Homo sapiens: one gene and its partners. The protein of the gene in region 2 purifies or fractionates together with the protein of the main gene of each other region. This does not show direct contact. Each region holds a gene or a part of one and is shown on either strand. Other genes may lie near its edges. The genes, in order: ADGRG5, ATP9A and VIPR1.

Region 1 (3,746 bases), on a different chromosome or scaffold from region 2:
AAGTTACAAAGTCATTTGGCATATGCCCTATGTAAATGGAGAGGATATTTTCTGTCATAGCTGAAGTGTTTCCATTTGATTTATTTTTATTTATTTTGAGATGGAATCTCGCTCTGTCACCCAGGCTAGAGTGCAGTGGTGCGATCTCGGCTCACTGCAACCTCTGCCTCTCGGGTTCAAGTGATTCTCCTGCCTCAGCCTCCCGAGCAGCTGGGATTACAGGCACCTGCCACCACGCCCAGCTAATTTTTGTATTTTTAGTACAGACGGGGTTTCACCATGTTGGCCAGGATGGTCTCCAACTCCTGACCTCAAGTGATTCGCCCACCTCGGCCTCCCAAAGTGCTGAGATTACAGGCATGAGCCACCGCGCCTGGCCTCCATTTGATTTAGTTCTAGGAAGTCCTTACATTTCCCTGTCTCTAAACCCTTTTCTCCTGCCTCAGCATGACATTGTGTCCGACTAAAAGGTGGCATCTGTCTTGAAGGTGTCTTGGGGAGGCAAAGGGCAGAGGCCTCCGGGAGGGCGTGGGACCGGGGCTGGCTTCGGTTAGTTCTCCATGGCTCTCTGCTCAGCCCTCAGTGGGCTCTCCTGCGGCTCTGTGTGCTCTCAGGTTGACACTTGGAGGGTCCCTGTCCACCAAGCCACAGGTTGGCAGCCCGCCCACTCTCCAGCGCAGGCCTTGGTGGCCCCGTCTAGGTGGGGAGTGGCTCCTGGGGAGGGGCGTCCCACTGCAGAGATGGTGATGAGGTGGTGACAACCATGTAGTGGGGTGGAAGGGGAAGTTTCCAGGAAAGAGGGCTCCGGGCCAAGGATCCAATAGAAGATGGGGCATGCCGGCCTTGGGCTGGCCATGGAAGCAGAGAGGAGTGAGATGTGGAAAGGAGAGAGGAAGAATTTTCAGGGGGGTGAAGACATGGGGACGTGAGAGAAACCACTGTGGCTGGAAAGGTGGGCATGAGGGAGCTTCAGATTGTTGACCAAGGAGGCAGATGTGTCCTCTGATGGTGGCCTGGCTGGAAAGCCGGGTGAGGGGTTTCACTGTGTGTTCAGTCAGGCAAGAAACAATAGGGCCTGAGCCAGGAGACCGAGTGGGGCTTCAGGGAGTGATGCTGGCCTCCCCGCGGGCCTGGGAGCCACTGTGAGCCTGACACGTCACCCTCCCCTGCAGATGCTGGGTGCGGAGCCCCGTGGTGCACAGTGTCCTGGTCATGGGCTACGGCGGCCTCACGTCCCTCTTCAACCTGGTGGTGCTGGCCTGGGCGCTGTGGACCCTGCGCAGGCTGCGGGAGCGGGCGGATGCACCAAGTGTCAGGGCCTGCCATGACACTGTCACTGTGCTGGGCCTCACCGTGCTGCTGGGAACCACCTGGGCCTTGGCCTTCTTTTCTTTTGGCGTCTTCCTGCTGCCCCAGCTGTTCCTCTTCACCATCTTAAACTCGCTCTACGGTAGGGCTGGAGGGCGGCCTGGAGGAAGCTACCTGGCAGGGGGTGTATGGCTGGTGGGATGTTCACTGCTAAAGGGGTTCAGGTGAAGGGGGCGAGTGGGGGACTAACATCCAGCCCACAGCTCCACTAGCTAAGCTGGTGGGGGCTACATCTGCATGAAGGTACCCTATGGACTGGCCACAGCAGCTCTTCCAGCTCTGAGGCTCTGCCCCTCTGGCCTCCTACAGTAAGAGATTCTGGGAGTTGCCCATGGGCCCCAGGGAGGCCAGCTCGCTGCAGCCAAGGAGACCCTGGCCTTTGGGGAAGCCCATGCTGCCCCGTGGAACTCCCGCCTTTCTCTTGCAGGTTTCTTCCTTTTCCTGTGGTTCTGCTCCCAGCGGTGCCGCTCAGAAGCAGAGGCCAAGGCACAGATAGAGGCCTTCAGCTCCTCCCAAACAACACAGTAGTCCGGGCCTCCTGGCCTGGAATCCTCAGCCTCTCTGGCCGCCAGTAGCCTGAGGCTACGGCTCCTGCTAGAGAGGGTGGCAGGCCTGCTGCTGGACCCCAGAGGCCACTGTGACCGCCAAGGGGCCTTTTCCACTTCCACGGCCTCTCCAGGCACTGAGGGGAAGGCATTGCTCTACCTCTCCCTGACATTTTGCTCCGGGGCAGATCCAACCTTACCTGGGGCAGCAAACTTTGTCCTGGTACCTGGGCCCAGCTCGCCAGGGATGTGGGCAGAGCACCAGCCTGGGCATCAGGAAGCCAAGTTTCAAGGACTGTCTTTGAGTCTGTCTGTATGACCTTGGGCCTGCCACTTCTCACAGACCCTAGGTATCCACAGCTGTGACATGGGGGCAAGCGGCTTTGTTTCAGCCTAACCCAGGAGCTTAGTAAAAATTGCATAAGACCAGGGGGAAGAGTGTCAGCGTGGGGTGGGAATTCCCGCGGCCTCCACCTGCTTGCTAGGGGCAGGATCTCATTCAGGCTGCCCTGGAAGCACCTGCTTGGCCCTGCCACCTTCCTCCAGGGGAGGGCCAGATGGCATCCTGGCTTGGGGCGGGTGGGACCTACCCAGGCTCTGAGACTTTACTGGCCTATGCCTGAGGCCTCTTTTCCTTTAACTCCCTAAATTATGATGACTCCAAGTCCAAGCCCACCCTTCCCAAAGATTGGGAGGTTCCGCCGTTCCCAGAGGCTCCTCCTGCGGTGCTCCCAAGACTTCCATAGACCATCTGGACCAGTAGCCCATCCCGCAGTTTTCTTGGGGGCAGAGGAAAACGCTTCTTTCTCCTCCAGCTGAATCAGCTGGATCCCAGTGTCCTGGCTGTTTGGTGATTGGGCAAGATTGAATTTGCCCAGGTAGGCGTGAGAGTGTGGGTTTTAAATTCGAAGCTCAGGCCATAGTTTCAGAGAATCACCCTTACCCCAGACCTTCATGAGACAGTGCTCATGAAGCCAGTGCGTTTCCCAGAACGAACACTAGGCGGCACCGTTGGTCCACACTCAGAGGCCCTTGGCGCCAAGACTGCATCTAGAATCGCTCAAACACCTGTTTGCAGACCCCATGCACCAGCTGGAGGGGCCGTAACTGCAGGACTGCGCCTACTGAGTGACCCATTTCCTCCAGGAGGAAAGGCAAGACACGCTTACACGGCCATTTGTCTCTTTTCCCAATGCGGCGGTGCACTTTCGCTCTTGGGGGCTGCACCCCAGACATAGCTGGCACCAGAGCAGGGTGCTCAGGTGGTGGGTGCTCAGGGCCCTGCCCCAGGCCACTGGGCCGTTTTGATGACCTCGAAGGTCACAGGCAGAAAATAGGAGCAGGATTTCCCCTGGGGAAAAGTTCTCCTGGGACATCTTCTGCTCTTCTGTACATTTCTAGATGCAAATAACTCCTTCACCAGGCAGTGAGTGGCGTAGGCTCTGGAGCCAGGCTGCCTGGGCTCCAATGCCAGCTCTGCCACTTGCTAGCTGTGAGACTGTGGACAAACCACTCAGCCTCTGTGTGCCTCAGTTTTCCTATTTGTAAAATAGAGGCCATAGTGGTACCTATTTTGAAGACTAAGTAAAAGAATTCAAATAAAGAGACTTGGCACAGAGTAAGTGCTCAGTAAATGGTTACTGGTATTATCATTAGTATTTTTGCTATTATTGTTAACAGTGTTAACTGAGTTTCAGAGGCCAGCCTGTCTAAGCCCCAGGCCCAGCTCTGCTCAACCTTGTAGGCACAACCCCTTCTTAGGCACATCTCACCATGCCTCAGTTTCTTTCCCCAGACGGGTCTCTACTCCCACCTCGCTGACTTTCTGCTGTT
Region 2 (3,646 bases):
CTCCTCACCCTAAGCAGTGACTGCATCTGCTGGTGTGTCCCAGGCCCGCTACGTCCAGGCCAAGCTGAGTGTGCACGACCGCTCCCTCAAAGTGGCCACGGTGATCGAGAGCCTGGAGATGGAGATGGAACTGCTGTGCCTGACGGGCGTGGAGGACCAGCTGCAGGCAGATGTGCGGCCCACGCTGGAGACCCTGAGGAATGCTGGCATCAAGGTAGGGCGGGCTGCCCGCAGGGAAGGGCACTCCAGGGCAATGCCAGTTATCCCTCAGCAGTGCAGGGAGATCACAGGGGGAAAGGGTGGGAGGAGCAGCAGAGGACACCAGGAGTGCCTTATCTGCAATGGGCCACAGGCACTGTTTCTGCCCCTCCAACTGTGATTTTTTTTTTTTTTTTTTTTTTGAGACGGGGTCTCGCTGTGTCGCCCAGGCTGGAGTGCAGTGGCATGATCTTGGTTAACTGCAACCTCTGCTTCCTGGATTCAAGCAATTCTTGTGCCTCATCCTCCCTAGTAGCTGGGATTACAGGCACGTACCACCACGCCTGGCTAATTTTTATATTTTTGTAGATAGAGGGTTTCACCATGTTGGCCAGGCTGGTTTTGAACTCCTGACCTCAGGTGATCTGTCTGTCTCAGTCTCCGAAGTGCTAGGATTACAGGTGTGAGCCACTGTGCCTGGCCCTCCAGCCCTGATTTTGGAAGACATCTTGTGTAGCGTTTGCCTTTACTGTACCGATGACTCCCCTGACTCCACTGGGCTCCCTGGTGCTCAAGGCCGAGCAGTGTCCAGCGTGCATGGCTGCTGATTAAATTCTAGTTGAGTGATCAGCACGCCGGTCTGTCTGCCGTGTGGCCAAGTGAGTGAGTGACCACCCAGCAGAGTGACCGTCAGCGCCATCACACTGTCGTATTAGCATTTTGCACTCTACCAGTGGCGACCCAAAAAAAAATACTAGGAGTTGAATCTGGAGGGGCCAGCAGAGGGCGCGTGAGGACCTGGTCCTCAGTGGACCAAGGGAGGTGTGAACAACCAAACTCATTGGCCTGGAGCTCCTGGAAACGTGTGCCTGCCACCGGCCTCCACTCAAAAGTGGCTCTCTGCTGCATCCTGGGGCCTGTCCTTTCAGCAGGGCCATGGCAGGAGGACAGGTTAGATGCCAGGCAACATTCAGGCCCACTGGGGACTCCCACCCCTGCGTGCCTGTTTCCTTGTAAACCCAATTCTGTCGCTTGCATTTGGCTCACAGGCCTGGTTCGTCATAAGGAAATCACCAACGGGACCTTGCTTCCGGAAGTCTGGCCGCTGGAGGCCCATTTCTGCTTCATCGTGGGGTCTGCAGTGGGGCCCTGGCCATTCCTAAGACTTCTGGAGTTTCCATTTTCTGCTTCCATCTTTGTCCTGGGGTTTTTCTCCTTCTCAAAACTATGTTAGCCCAAGACGAGATATTTTATTCACAGAGTGTGCATGTGACTTACCATTCTAGTTTCCTGTTAGATGACAGGAGGAGGGGAGTGCCTGGGATGGGGCAGGTTAGTTGGTAATTAAAGTCTAAGATACGATCTTGCACAGGAAATTTTCTTTTCTTTTCTTTCTTTCTTTCTTTTTTTTTTTTTTTTTGAGACAGAGTTTCACTCTGTCGCCCAGGCTGGAGTGCAGTGGTGCGATCTCGGTTCACTGCAACCTCCACTTCCTGGGTTCAAGAGATTCTCCTGCCTCAGCCTCCCAAGTAGCTGGGATTATAGGTATGTGCCACCATACCTGGATAATTTTGTATATTTAGATATTTAGTAGAGATGGGTTTTCTCCATGTTGGTCAGGCTGGTCTCGAACTCCTGACCTCAAGTGGTCCACCTGCCTCGGCCTCCCAAAGTGTTGGGATTATAGGCGTAAGCCACCGCGCCTGGCTGCACAGGATATTTTCTAAATCAGCCCCTTGTATGGATGTAGAAACTGAGGCTAAGTGAGGCGTCTCCATTCCCCAGGTTCTCACATTGGGAAGCAGCAGAGCCGGGACTGGAGCTGGGGTCTTGGACCCTTCCTGTAGTACCTTGCCTTCATCACAGCATGGGACATTAGCCATGTCGTGCACCTGATCGTTCTTTTCATGCTTTTCTGGAACTTGAACTTCCCAATTCCTTCCCCAGTGTTTGTTCTCTTACCTCAAACCCTGAGAACTATGACTAAACGAAGCTCACCAAAAAGAATATTATTTTTAGGACAGGCGGGATATTGAGGGAAAACAGACCCAGCTAGGGGAGAGGGCCCGGGAGGCTCAGCCCTGAGAGGTGCCCGGTGCCTTCCTTCTGCCCGTCTCACTGCCTGGGTTTCCATCCTACCTCTCCCTTTACTTCTTCTGTGACCCTTGGCAAATGACTGAAGCTCTTAGCGCTTCCATTTCCAGCCTCCAGAAGCTGTCATGAAGGTAACAGAGAGCTCAGCGTGGGTGCTGGGCACGTAGTGGACACTCAGGAGACAATTGTCATGATCTTCTTTCCTATACTTTCCCTCCTATCCAGATTTTCTTTGACCGATAGCCCCAAGACTGCTCCCAGCTGGGAGCAAAGAGAACAAAAGGGTTAATGAGGTAAAATCACAGAGCAGGAAGCACATTCCATGAGGACTCTAAAGACCCGGATTCTGGGCCTGGTTAGGACAAGAGGTAGCTGTGTGGTTTGGGGCAAGTCATCTACCCTCTCTGAGCCCACAGCAGAGAAATGCAGTGTGAGCTAATGCACGATACGGAAGAACCTGACTCATTTACGGTCAGCGTTTTATAAGCTGAGTTAAACCCCAGAAGGGTCTGTCTTGCTCATCCAACTACATAGAAAGTCCACAGCGTCAAAAATGAGTGTTTCCTGTAGGACAGGGAAGTGCCCCCTCACCTGTACAGCCTTTCCCTTCTTTTAGGATATTTATCACTTTAAGAAAAATCCTCAGAAGGGGAATTATGCGGTCCAAGGACCGAGCTTCATAGTACCTCCTGTAGTGTGTGGCCAAATGGCCCTTTCTAGAAGCATCTGCCAGTTTTTGCTGCTACCAGCAGTGGTTGCTTGGAGTCCCAGAGCCCTTCAGCCAGGGCGCTTGCTGTGTTGTGTTGGGGACAGCATGAGTCGGCAGGAGGTAAACGGAACATACCAAGTTCAGCTCCATGTTGTTGGAAACTCAGCTGTTGCAGATGACAGGCCGGCCTCAAAAACTAATAAACAGGACCTCTGTCACGCCATGATTTCAGGTTTGGATGCTGACAGGGGACAAGCTGGAGACAGCTACGTGCACAGCGAAGAATGCACATCTGGTGACCAGAAACCAAGACATCCACGTTTTTCGGCTGGTAAAGTGTCCTCTGCGTTAGGGCCATGTGGGGATGATGTTCGATTTGTCCTATAACCTCCTAACCTTGAGTGGGCCCCTTAAGAAGGGAGGGGCAGCATGTGAATTACCTAGGGTGGGGAGCATCAACCACGGTTGCTTTGGATGGGATGATTAATGACCCAGGCGCCGGCTGGAGAGTTTCTTCCAGTAGTGGTTTGGGAGTACCTCCTTCTAGCCCTGTGCTAATGCCATGCTCTTAACCTTTTGGGGGTCGTGGTCCCTTTGAGAAGCTGATGAAAGTCAGGCACTCCCCCCGAAAGATGCAGATCCACT
Region 3 (3,646 bases), on a different chromosome or scaffold from region 2:
TCCCTCATACCTTCCAGCTACCTTCAATACAAATTGGCATTAGATGAATGAGTGGGTGGGGTGGGAGTGTGGATGGGCAGGTTGGTGGATGGCTAAGTAGGCAGCAGGATAAATGGGTTAAGTAAGGAAGATTGGACAGATGATAGGCAGAGGGGCAGGTAGGTAGATATGTGGGTGGATGCACAAGTGGATTGATGGGTGGGTGCAGAGATGAATGGATGGGTAGATGACTGAGTGGGTTGGTAGAAGAATGGAGAGATAGGTGTGTGGGTGGATGGATTGATAGATGGGAAGATGATAGATGATGGATGGACACATGGATAAAAAATGGATAAATGAGTGAGTTGATAGTGAATGTCTAGTGGGTGAGTGGGTAAATAAATGGATACATGGATAGGTGGGTAGATGATTGAATGGGCAGATGGGTAGATATATAGATGGGAAGGTGAATAGATGAATTGATGGATGGATAATTAAAATCACCAGTTTATCCCGAAGTATCAGAGGATCTAAAATTAGGGAAAATGGGAAAACCAATGAGTACATTTTTAAGGGGATAATGCAAAACAACAAAGAGATTAAGTTGGCTGCACTGCAACTGTGTTTGTCCCCCCAGACACGAGTGTGGGCAGTCAAGGACCCTTGACAGCCCCAGTGAACCCCGTCTTTTCTCCTCCCCCTGCAGGTGGGCTGTAAGGCAGCCATGGTCTTTTTCCAATATTGTGTCATGGCTAACTTCTTCTGGCTGCTGGTGGAGGGCCTCTACCTGTACACCCTGCTTGCCGTCTCCTTCTTCTCTGAGCGGAAGTACTTCTGGGGGTACATACTCATCGGCTGGGGTATGGTACCAGGGAGGGCTTCCAGGCTGGGGACAGAGGGGGCAAGGCCTGGAGAACTCCCTAGGGGGAGGGTGCCAACCCAGCTTGCAGTCCTACGTCTTGCTTAGCTGCAGGTCCTGCCTGCAAGGATATCAGCCAAGGGTCAAGAAAGTCCTCAAAATGTCTGATCCCAGGACAAGTCCCTCAGGTTGCAGCTGCACCTAGGGCTGACCTGTGGGACAGATTTTGTGAACATCTTTCCATTTCCCTTTAGTTCCCGAAATACACAGGGCCACTGCTAATCTATAAAGGGCCTCTGTCACAATTAGAAAGAGAATGTCCGTCTAGGTAGACACAGCCCTTCAGGCATACAGCTTCACCCCCTCAGTGGAGCATCCCTCCGTGGTGAACAACCTATGCAACCAAAGACAGCAGACTGACAACCCACCCTTTTCTCTCTCCCTCCCTCTCCCTGCTTTTCTCCAAAATCTCTCCCTCATGCCCTCTACCCCTGCTTCCTGTGCCCTCTCTGCTCTTTCACTCTCCCTGGGCCTGACAGGGGTACCCAGCACATTCACCATGGTGTGGACCATCGCCAGGATCCATTTTGAGGATTATGGGTGAGCTGCTGCCCCACACACTCCCCCGGCCGCCATCACTTGGGCAGGCCCCCTGGGTGGGATGATAATGCCATCTGGCCTTGGTGAGTGGACAAAAACCACAGCTCTCGGGCCAGAGGGGAGGCTGGAGGAGGACCTGGGGAGCAACAGACTCTGGGCCCGGGGTTGCTAAAGTGCTCAGGAGCAGAGCTGGGGACAACTGGGGGAGGTGCTGCTGAGTCTCTCTCTGGCTGAGGACAATCCCTCTCATTCCTCCCCACGGTCTGCTCAGGTGCTGGGACACCATCAACTCCTCACTGTGGTGGATCATAAAGGGCCCCATCCTCACCTCCATCTTGGTAAGATACCCTCCCACCACCTAGAGATGGGGAAACAGGCCCAAAGGGCAGGCAACTTAGCCCAAGGTCACATGGGAAATTAGTATCTAGGTCAGAACTGAAACGTAGCTTCCTAATGCCCAATGCAGGATCATCCCCACCCCTGTCCTACCAGTTCTTCCTTGAGCGTAAGCGGATTGGGAGCACAGTCCTTAGGGATTTGAAGGAGGTAGAGTTCCCGGATGACCTGCCCAAAGGGGAAATGCCAGAGGAGAGGTAAGATAGAGAGAGGGGCAGCAGGACCCTGGGAAAGAAGACAGGCCAGCAGTCAAGGGGCCTGAACACCTCAGCCTTCCCGCTCTGACTGCCCGAACTCGGGTCCCCACCCACTAGGTAAACTTCATCCTGTTTATTTGCATCATCCGAATCCTGCTTCAGAAACTGCGGCCCCCAGATATCAGGAAGAGTGACAGCAGTCCATACTCGTGAGTGTGGGCCTAGTGCCTCAGCCCCCAGTACCTCCATCCCCAGTCCTCAAATCATCCCACATCTCCTTGAAGTCCTCCCACCCCAAACATCCAGAGTCACCAAAGAGCCACATTGTTCTTTCCCACCTCCACCATGGCCTGGCTCAGCCCACCACCATCCCCTGCTCCAGCCCCACCCTCACCAGGCTGCACTCAGAGCCCTGCATGCTTCTCCTGCCCACACTCACCTAGCATCCTTCCCAGGTATGCATCTGCTGCCAAGCCAGGGAGCTCAAGAGGACACCGATGACCTGTGTCTTGTTCATACCATGTGCCCAGTCCCTGGCATGTGCCTCACATGGAAAAAGGGTGCAATAAACACATAGTAGATGAATGCCCTGGGGGAGACCCCAGTCCACCAATGAGACAGCCATGTTCGGGACTCAGTATTCCTCAGTAATAATGATGACACCTGCAGTTTACATGCCAGGCACACGCTAAGGGATTTCCATGCATCATGTCATTTCATCCACACAGTCCCCTGCAAAATTATCTTTACTTTACAGGGAGGAAATGACATACACTCCCTTCTCCTTGAGGGTTTTGGAGCAGGTCACCATGGGCAGGGAGAAGGGGGCACAATGTCCATGGACCAGGGCTTGGAAAGGTGTCAGGACTGTTCCCCCTGCTTGGGAGGACTGGAGGAAGAGGCAGGTTTTTTTGCGGGAGCAACAAGGCTTGAAGACAGAGCTAAAGAAACATGAAAAATATGAAAAGGGAGGCTGTGGGAAGGCAAGTAGGGTCTGCATGCTCACAGATGGGAGTAGGAGATTGAGTATCAGTGCTATTGACACAAGACAAACCTGGGACGTCCCACAAGGCCTTCCAGTCCTGGGATTCTTCTTGGCCTGGCTTCTCTTTGGAGAGTCTGTGCTGTGGTTCTAAGATTCCTGGCTAGAATGTCACAGACTGCTGGATTTAGGATTCTATTCTGGAATCCTGTGATTCTCCCTGATGAGACTAAGACTCACATTCCTGGTGTGACTGCATTCTCTCCTGCCAGGTGTGTAGGCGGAGCTTCCCTTCCTGTCTGAGAAGGAAAGGCTGGGGGGGACGGGGGGGGCATCTGCAGTCTGCTGAGGGGCAGCACATCGGGCCTGTGCACCCTTATCCTCTCCTTTGCCGATGGGACCTTATTTCCCCCAACTTACAATGGTTCAAAAGGGCCTGAATCTGAGGCAAACAGAGCTGGCCATGGTCAGGGCCAGGTCTGTGTGGTGAGACAGAAAGGAAACAGTTGTCAGCAGGCAAAAGGGGTGGGGGCAGTTGGAGATGAAGCTCCTCAAGGAGAAGCTGTCAGCTCCCACTCTACACCTCCCCATAAGCCTTTGATTTAAAGAAAGCCTCCATCTGTTAGCCTCCGG

Evidence for each region.
Region 1: the proteins of ATP9A (region 2) and ADGRG5 purify together in Homo sapiens (co-immunoprecipitation; one large-scale study listed by IntAct). This does not show direct contact.
Region 3: the proteins of ATP9A (region 2) and VIPR1 purify together in Homo sapiens (co-immunoprecipitation; one large-scale study listed by IntAct). This does not show direct contact.

What each region holds. Positions count from the first base shown.
Region 1 is NC_000016.10:57,573,643-57,577,388, forward strand, and holds the end of ADGRG5 (adhesion G-protein coupled receptor G5 isoform 1 precursor), read left to right. Parts: intron 1-1,172; coding exon 1,173-1,450; intron 1,451-1,795; coding exon 1,796-1,896; 3' UTR 1,897-3,547; downstream 3,548-3,746. UniProt on the Homo sapiens protein: Orphan adhesion G-protein coupled receptor (aGPCR). Ligand binding causes a conformation change that triggers signaling via guanine nucleotide-binding proteins (G proteins) and modulates the activity of downstream effectors, such as adenylate cyclase.
Region 2 is NC_000020.11:51,621,760-51,625,405, reverse strand, and holds part of ATP9A (probable phospholipid-transporting ATPase IIA), read left to right. Parts: intron 1-43; coding exon 44-214; intron 215-3,233; coding exon 3,234-3,332; intron 3,333-3,646. UniProt on the Homo sapiens protein: Plays a role in regulating membrane trafficking of cargo proteins, namely endosome to plasma membrane recycling, probably acting through RAB5 and RAB11 activation. Also involved in endosome to trans-Golgi network retrograde transport.
Region 3 is NC_000003.12:42,530,094-42,533,739, forward strand, and holds part of VIPR1 (vasoactive intestinal polypeptide receptor 1 isoform 1 precursor), read left to right. Parts: intron 1-685; coding exon 686-839; exon of another isoform or gene 840-865; intron 866-1,377; coding exon 1,378-1,438; intron 1,439-1,709; coding exon 1,710-1,776; intron 1,777-1,927; exon of another isoform or gene 1,928-2,002; intron 2,003-2,148; coding exon 2,149-2,240; intron 2,241-2,470; exon of another isoform or gene 2,471-2,486; coding exon of another isoform or gene 2,487-2,532; exon of another isoform or gene 2,533-2,649; intron 2,650-3,646. UniProt on the Homo sapiens protein: G protein-coupled receptor activated by the neuropeptides vasoactive intestinal peptide (VIP) and pituitary adenylate cyclase-activating polypeptide (ADCYAP1/PACAP).